Homo sapiens: one gene and its partner. The protein of the gene in region 1 interacts with the protein of each later gene in a biochemical or structural test. Each region holds a gene or a part of one and is shown on either strand. Other genes may lie near its edges.

The links. The genes of interacting proteins can lie anywhere in the genome.
Region 2: the proteins of DDX4 (region 1) and SPSB4 interact in a test that uses a peptide from one of them, tested with the Homo sapiens proteins (one study listed by BioGRID).

The regions. Positions count from the first base shown.
Region 1 is NC_000005.10:55,735,669-55,739,418, forward strand, and holds the start of DDX4 (probable ATP-dependent RNA helicase DDX4), read left to right. Parts: upstream 1-2,392; 5' UTR 2,393-2,433; exon of another isoform or gene 2,434-2,672; intron 2,673-3,281; 5' UTR 3,282-3,295; coding exon 3,296-3,364; intron 3,365-3,750. UniProt on the Homo sapiens protein: ATP-dependent RNA helicase required during spermatogenesis. Required to repress transposable elements and preventing their mobilization, which is essential for the germline integrity.
Region 2 is NC_000003.12:141,145,330-141,149,079, forward strand, and holds the end of SPSB4 (SPRY domain-containing SOCS box protein 4), read left to right. Parts: intron 1-1,812; coding exon 1,813-1,940; 3' UTR 1,941-3,282; downstream 3,283-3,750. UniProt on the Homo sapiens protein: Substrate recognition component of a SCF-like ECS (Elongin BC-CUL2/5-SOCS-box protein) E3 ubiquitin-protein ligase complex which mediates the ubiquitination and subsequent proteasomal degradation of target proteins.

The DNA.
Region 1 (3,750 bases):
CCTGGGTTTGAACAAGCTATTCTCCTGCCTCAGCCTCCGAAGTAGTTGGGACTATGGGTGCGTGCCACCACACCCGGCTAATTTTTTGTATTTTCAGTAGAGACGGGGTTTCACCGTGTTAGCCAGAATGGTCTTGATCTCTTGACCTCGTGATCCACCTGCCTCAGCCTCCCAAAGTGCTGGGATTACAGGCGTGAGCCTCTGTGCCCAGCCTAAATATAATCTTTTAAGGTTGGGTGTGGCAGCTTATGGCTGTAATCCCAGCACTTTGGGAGGCTGAGGCAGGAGGCTCACTTGAGGCCAGAAATTGGAGACCAGCCTGGGCAACACAGGGAGACTCTTGGGAGGCTGAGGCAGGAGGCTCACTTGAGGCCCGGAATTGGAGACCAGCCTGGGCAACACAGGGAGACTCTTTCTCTACAAAATTTTTTTTAAAAATTAGCTGGGCATGGTGGCTTGTGCCTGTAGTCCCAGCTATTCGGGAGGCTGAGGTGGCAGGATCACTTGAGCACAGGAGGTTGAGGCTGCAGTAAGCTATGATCATTAGTGCACTCCCCTCTGGGTGACAGAGTGAGACCTTGTCTCAAAAATAAATAAATAAATAAATAAAAAATATATTCATTTTGATCATCTTGAGAATAGTCTGACAAAGTTTATTGCTAACTAGATGAATCCTGAAATTCTTGGTGGTGATGGTTCTAGAGATAAAAAGTATGAAGCAAGCCTGAGCCTATTAAGTGCTTTATCCTTTATGTACCAGTATCAAACTGTGTTGCTATTTATGTTCCTGAATGAGATAGGAATTTCTTCAGATTCAGAGAAGGGAAAATGACAGAAACGACAACAAAAATGAGAACTACACTTTTTTTTTTTTTTTTTTTTTTTGAGGCGGAGTCTCGGTCTGAGGCCCAGGCTGGAGTGCAGTCGCGCGATCTCGGCTCACTGCAAGCTCCGTCTCCCGGGTTCACGCCATTCTCCTGCCTCAACCTCTGGAGTAGCTGGGACTACAGGCGCCCGCCACCACGCCCGGCTAATTTTTTGTATTTTTAGTAGAGACGGGGTTTCGCCGTGTTAGCCAGGATGGTTGCATCTCCTGACCTCGTGATCCGCCCGCTTCGGCCTCCCCAAGTGCTGGGATTACAGACAGACGTAAGCCACCGCGCCCGGCCTCTGAGAACTACACTTTTAAAACAGCCCATGGTCACGCGTTTTGAAGGGCTGGGGAAATACTGAGGGATTTTACCTGCTTTTGGGGTGGGGGGTGGGGGCAGAACAAGAAAATCTGATTGAAGACAGCATGAAGTATCAAAATAACCCTTGGCCACTTTGGCTAGTGCCCGTAGGAATATAAACAGGTGGGCCACAAATCCAAGCCTTGATGAATGACCTATGCCAGCACCAATTTCCTCCCTCCTTCTGGATCAGAGCCTGTTTCCTTCCAAAGTGGTGGACCCCCGAAATCTTACAGGCTTTTTTTTTTTTTTTTTTTTCCTCTGTCTCACTCTGTCGCCCAGGTAGAGATCAATGGCATGATCTCGGTTCATTGCAACCTCTGCCTCCCGGGTTCAAGCGGTTCTCTTGCCTCAGCCTCCTGAGTAGCTGGGACTACAGGCAGCCGCCACCATACCCGGCTAATTTTTTTAATTTTAGTAGAGACGGGGTTTCACCATGTTGGCTAGGCTGGTCTCGAACTCCTAGCCTCATGTGATCCGCCCGCCTCGGCCTCCCAAAGTGCTGGGATTACAGGCGTGAGTCACCATGCCCAGCCGAGTCTAACTTTCTTTACGATTTCCTGGGGTCCCAGCTGGACGGAGTCTCATCCCTGCCCCCCTTACTGGGAGGAAAAGGGAATGCACCTCCTCCATGAGCCTCAGCTGCACTTTGAGGCACCTGGAATCCCCGGATGTGGAGCGAGTCTCTGAAATGCAGAACCCGAGGGGCCAACCCATGGACTGTGATGGGTAAAAGGGGAGAGAGCACTAAAGAGGCCAAGTAGGGAGGACATTATCCCTTTCCCCTTTTATTATTATTTTTTGTTAGAAAAAGGCAGGTGGACATATTTAGCTTGCGAAGCTTGCACAAGGAAAATCCAGAGCGTCTCCAGAATAAGGATCCCACGAGAGAACGTGGACACAAGTAGGCCCTCAGCCAGCCTTGTACCCACAGGCCCAACAGGCCACTTGGCTATGAGGCCAGAGCGTCGCCATAGGGGCCCGAACGCTAGCGTTTAGGGAATCCGCAGGCTAGAAGTGGAGGCGGGACGCCACTGGTCGTCTGAGCGCTGATTGGCTGGTGGCGCTAGTCACCAGCCAATCGTCAACAGACGCCATTTGTTGTTGGAGCCACGCACCTGACGCAGTGGGCGTCTTGCACGTGCAGCCGTTTAAGTCGCGTGGGCGCCTGCGAGGGCTTGGGAGAGCAAGCCGCGGAGAGGTGAGTGGGCCGCTTTTCTACGGGAACTGGCCTGAACTCGGCCGTACGGGCTCCCCAGTAACCGACCTTTGGCCAAAGTGTGGATGGAGTAGGAGGAGTTTTGAAGCCGTCCTTCGAAGCCTTTCTGCCTCGGGGTCTCAGAGTCCCACGGGTGCCCAAAGTCTGGGCTTGAGGCCTGCAGAGGAGGCGAAGGGGCCTTATTCCTGGCTTCTTCACTGCGTTTTCTCTGAACAGACATGGTCCGAGTACCATTTGTGTACAAATCCTTCTTGATGAAGCTGGTTGTCCTTTGTCGGCAGGATTTGGGCAACCATACCCTTCTTCCCTTCCCCACTAAAATCCAAGGCCTCCCTCTTCACCGAGTCGCCGCCCCCCTACCCAGTCGACTCCCGTACCCCTGTCCCCGCCCCCACGCACGCCACAAACACCCCAAAGCAAACATCCTATCCACCTTGGATGTTAATCATGCGAAGGGAGAAATCTTAAGTAGTTTCTGAAAAAAGTTGCCTCTCCCTTAATATTCAGTAAGTCGTTTGGGGACCCTTTGAGGGAGGAGATAAAGTCTATGAACAGATGTTTGGGAAAAGCCTAAGTCTTGCTGGGGACATGGCGATTGCTAGAATGACTAGGTAAGAGGTTCAACTAGTTTCTAAAGCTAAGAAAGGATGGAGATAAATGCCACCTTTAGATAAGAAGAGACCTAATTCCTTCTTTGGAAAAAACTTTTGGGGTATCAGCACCTAGTTGGGTAGTTTCAAGATGTATGTGAAACAATGAGTTTATGCTTTTAAAGTTATGATTCTGATCTAATTGAGTCCAAATGTGCATTTTTTTTTTTTTATGAATAGAACTTGAAGCCACCATGGGAGATGAAGATTGGGAAGCAGAAATCAACCCTCATATGTCTTCCTATGTTCCCATATTTGAGAAGGTAATAACATTTAAAGTTTAGTTATTAAATGCTACGGATTTTATCAAAGTTGAAAATCACTGTGGTGAGAGTTCTAAATTATACAGTCTGTGTCAGTGTTTATCTCCATGTGATTGTTATTAACTATTATATGGGGAATAAGAGACAACCTAAGCCTCGTATAGGATACAATAGCTTGAGGCAATTTGATAATTAAAAGCTAAAATAGATGTAAAAATATTAATGACCTAATTTAAATCTCAATGATTTAGGACTTCCTCAGGTGAAAGCAAACTTGGGCAAATGTGGTTGATATCAGTGAAAGACGCTTGTATGGAAAATTGAAAACAATAATTACGTTTTGGGAGATATTTTAAATTCTGAAAATTGATTTTGTGCAAGGAGGG
Region 2 (3,750 bases), on another chromosome or scaffold:
GATGTACTCTTGTGCACAGCTTCCAAAGCATGCTCCCCAAGCCCCACTTTAATTTTAATGGCTCCCCTTATTAACTCTGCAGCTCAGGTAAATAAAAATTCCTATAAAACATATTCTCGACTCTTGACTACATTCCCATGTAAAAAGTACTTCACTGCAGGTTGTGATAAAAAAATGTTTGAAAGCTGCAGGCCTCGGGTGGATCTGTAGAGGGCCTTTCTCTGTGGTACTATTCCTATCACAACTCTTGTGTTAGTATTTACCACTCAACAGTTTTGTTGTATCTTAGTACATTATAGGATGTTTATGAAATATCATTTATTCTATTACCAAAAAAGTATTAAGATGCAGGTTCAGGCTTCCAGCATACTCCTGGAGGACTGGGGAAACCAGGCCTGTACAAACCATACCAGATGCCATGTGACCACCATCATCATCTTCCTTCCAGCTGATGCTAACTGATCAGCACTGTTCCTCTCCCCACAAACCTCCAGGCTGTCCTGTTTTATTCCTCCTTTGCCTTTGCCTGTTCTCTCTGCCTAGGATACCCTCCCCACCCTTATGTGCCTTTAACCCTCCTATTCACTCTTCAAAACCCCATTATGTGTCCTCTCTGTGAAGCTTTCAAACAGCTCTTCTATATAAGAAATTCCCAGTTTCTGTACCTGTATATTTAAGAATTATTGCATATATTACACTCTATTAAAATGATTCACCTATTTAAAATCCCAGATCATGAGCCTCCACCACCCCCCTACCTGCCCCCACCCTCTTCCAGAGCTGCCTCTGGTGCTAGCTTAGTTATCCCTGTATCCCCAGGGCTAATCAAAGGGCCTGGACCAGAATAAGAGCTTAATAAGGGGGTCTGCAATAAACCTAGTTAAAGTTGGTTTAACTGGTCCTATGTCCAGTGGTTCCATTATTTATGGATTTTAACTTACAAATTTTTCCAGAACTAGGTGCTGGAAGAAAATGTAACCCGCTGCTGACCATCAAGGAAAGCTATAGGGGAAGTTTCAGGGTTCACAGGCATTTCAGACAGCCTCTCAGAATCTAACCTGTTTGTAGAGGAAACCCCTCTGCAGATCCACCCAAGGCCACCAGCTTTTAAACATTTTCCATCATGACCTGAAGTGAGAAGTCCTTTTCACATTAAGACACACCAGGCCGGGCGCGGTGGCTCACGCCTGTAATCCCAGCACTTTGGGAGGCCGAGAAGGGCGATCACGAGGTCAGGAGATCGAGACCATCCTGGCTAACACAGTGAAAGCCCGTCTCTACTAAAAATACAAAAAATTAGCCGGGCTGGTGGCGGGTGCCTGTAGTCCCAGCTACTAGGGAGGCTGAGGCAGGAGAATGGCGTGAACCCAGGAGGCGGAGCTTGCAGTGAGCCCAGATTGTGCCACTGCACTCCAGCCTGGGCGACAGAGCAAGACTCCATCTAAAAAAAAAAAAAAAAGACACGCTGAACACCTACATCAGAGACCAGAGACAAGGCTTTCATGAAACAATATTTATCCTTGCTATGGGTATTGCTCCCATTTTCTCTTTTTTTAAAAAAAATTATGGCTGGTCACCACCCATTGAATTGATTTTGTGACTCTTTAGTCTCACTGGTTGCATTCCACAGTCTAATGAACACTCCTCTAGGCCTTCAGCTTATGTAACCAGAGAAATCTTCTCCAAGGAGAAGCCATTGACCCTGAAGGCCAGCTCAGAGGAGCAGGCAGGAGGCGGTATGCAGTGGGGGCTGGGATGAGAAGGTGCCAGGATGGCACAGGGCACACTCTAACTGCTTCCCTCTCATTGCAGCCGAGCCCCTGCCACTGATGGACCTGTGCCGGAGATCCATCCGCTCGGCCCTGGGCCGCCAGCGCCTGCAGGACATCAGCTCCCTGCCCCTGCCTCAGTCTCTCAAAAACTATCTGCAGTACCAGTGAGCCAAGCCTGATGGGCAGCACAGACACAGACACACACCGCAGGGCCCGACCCTCCTGTCATTCACAGTCCCATGGCACATAGGGGAAAGGATCTACCCTTCTCCTGGCTCCCCAGGACACTCAGTTCTTTCAAAGACCAGGATGTGGTACCAACTTTGGAAACGAAAGGTCTCTTGCCAACAGTATCTACTGCCCTCGAGGCAGCCCTCCCAAGTCAGACACCTCCTTCGGAGCCACAGAGAGCCTGGAGTCTGCACCTCCTGGAAATCCTGCCACCAACCAGGACACAGCAGCCACCGTATTGATCAGAGAGCCTGTTTCCTTATTCAAGAGAATGAATAAAACATTTAGGCAGGAGACTTTCTATTGTGTGCCCCGTTGCAGACAGGGCCAGGGAGAAATTAGCCAGTGCAGGGGGAAAATTGCCTCTGAATAATGAATGATGAAAGCCTGACGCCGTGCCCCTCCTGGCCCATACGCCTTGCCAGGGCGGCAGGATTGTCACACCGTTTTAGGACTCTGTGCCACTTTGAGAGACTGTTCCCAGGAGGCCCAACCGCAGACCTGGCAAGTGGACAGTGCAGTGTGGAGACACCTTCCGGCTTACCTCTTTGAACGTTGTTTACCTACCCCTTTCCACGTGCTCCCCTTCCCAGCCACTGACTCACAGTTCTCTGGATGCCCAGACACCTCTCTTCAGGGAAGATGAGTCTGACTGGTTTGCCCCAGGGAAGAGCATATCCTTACCATTATTTTAAGTAGCATTTGCATTTTAAAAGAGGAATGCGGAGAGGACAGTACTTAGTCCAAAGGTGCTAACGGGGGAACTGGGGGCATTGTGACACCCAAGTCTGATGTGTCCTGGGTTGGGGGGCCTTCCTGGAGTGTCAGGGTCTCTGGGCAACGTCCATTCAGGGTGCGGCATGGCTGTCACAAAGCTTTATTTGAGCAAATTATTTTTTCACTTTAGGAGACTTCTACAAGTTTGTTTCCTGTTTCAAATGTGTGTGTGATGTGCTGTTTATTTATCAGCTTGAGGTCCATGGGGGCAGCCTTGTGACTGGAAGGGTGGATATGGGAGACACATTCTCTACCTGCTCCGAGCCTGGTCCTCTCGCAGGAATGCTGCTGCTGCCTCCGCCGCCACTGCTGCTGCCACCTCTTATATGTTTCAGACACTCTCTGCCCAGACTCATTTTTAACTGGAAATCATCACAGCAGTGGGATATCAGAGCCCCAGACAGCACTGCCTCTTCCTCCCCACCCCACTGCCCCCACCTTAATGTGAATTTGACTGATGAATGAAGAGCGTTTCTAATAAAGTTTGTCATTCAGTCCTTCAGCTGCGTATTAAATGTTGTTTGGGGAGGGACCCAGAGAGCTTCTTCCATCAACCTGCCTGGTCCGTCAGACTGATAGAAGCCAGGCACGTGAATCCCTCTTTAGACATTTCTTGTCTCTTCTGACTTGTGGTCCTTGCTTGAGCCCAAACTCCAGCTATTTTGCAAAGGCCTGCCCTGGACAAGAGAATGTGCCTGTGTCCTGGGTACATGCAAAGCTGACCTTATGGTGGAGAAACAACTCAGCCTCCTGTTGCCAGAGCCAAGGGGTAGCCCTGCAAAGGGGCTTAGGGTCAGGCAGGGCAAACCCTATGGAACACCAGTTTCCAAGTGGACTGGAGGTGGGGCTGGATGTGACTGTAGTGAATGCATGTTGTCACCAAGGAGCAGTGCAAATTGTTGAAGCATGAGTGTAAAGAAAGGCCAGGCTCAGAGCTGATAGCAGTTCAGGAGTTAGAGTCAGGATAGGG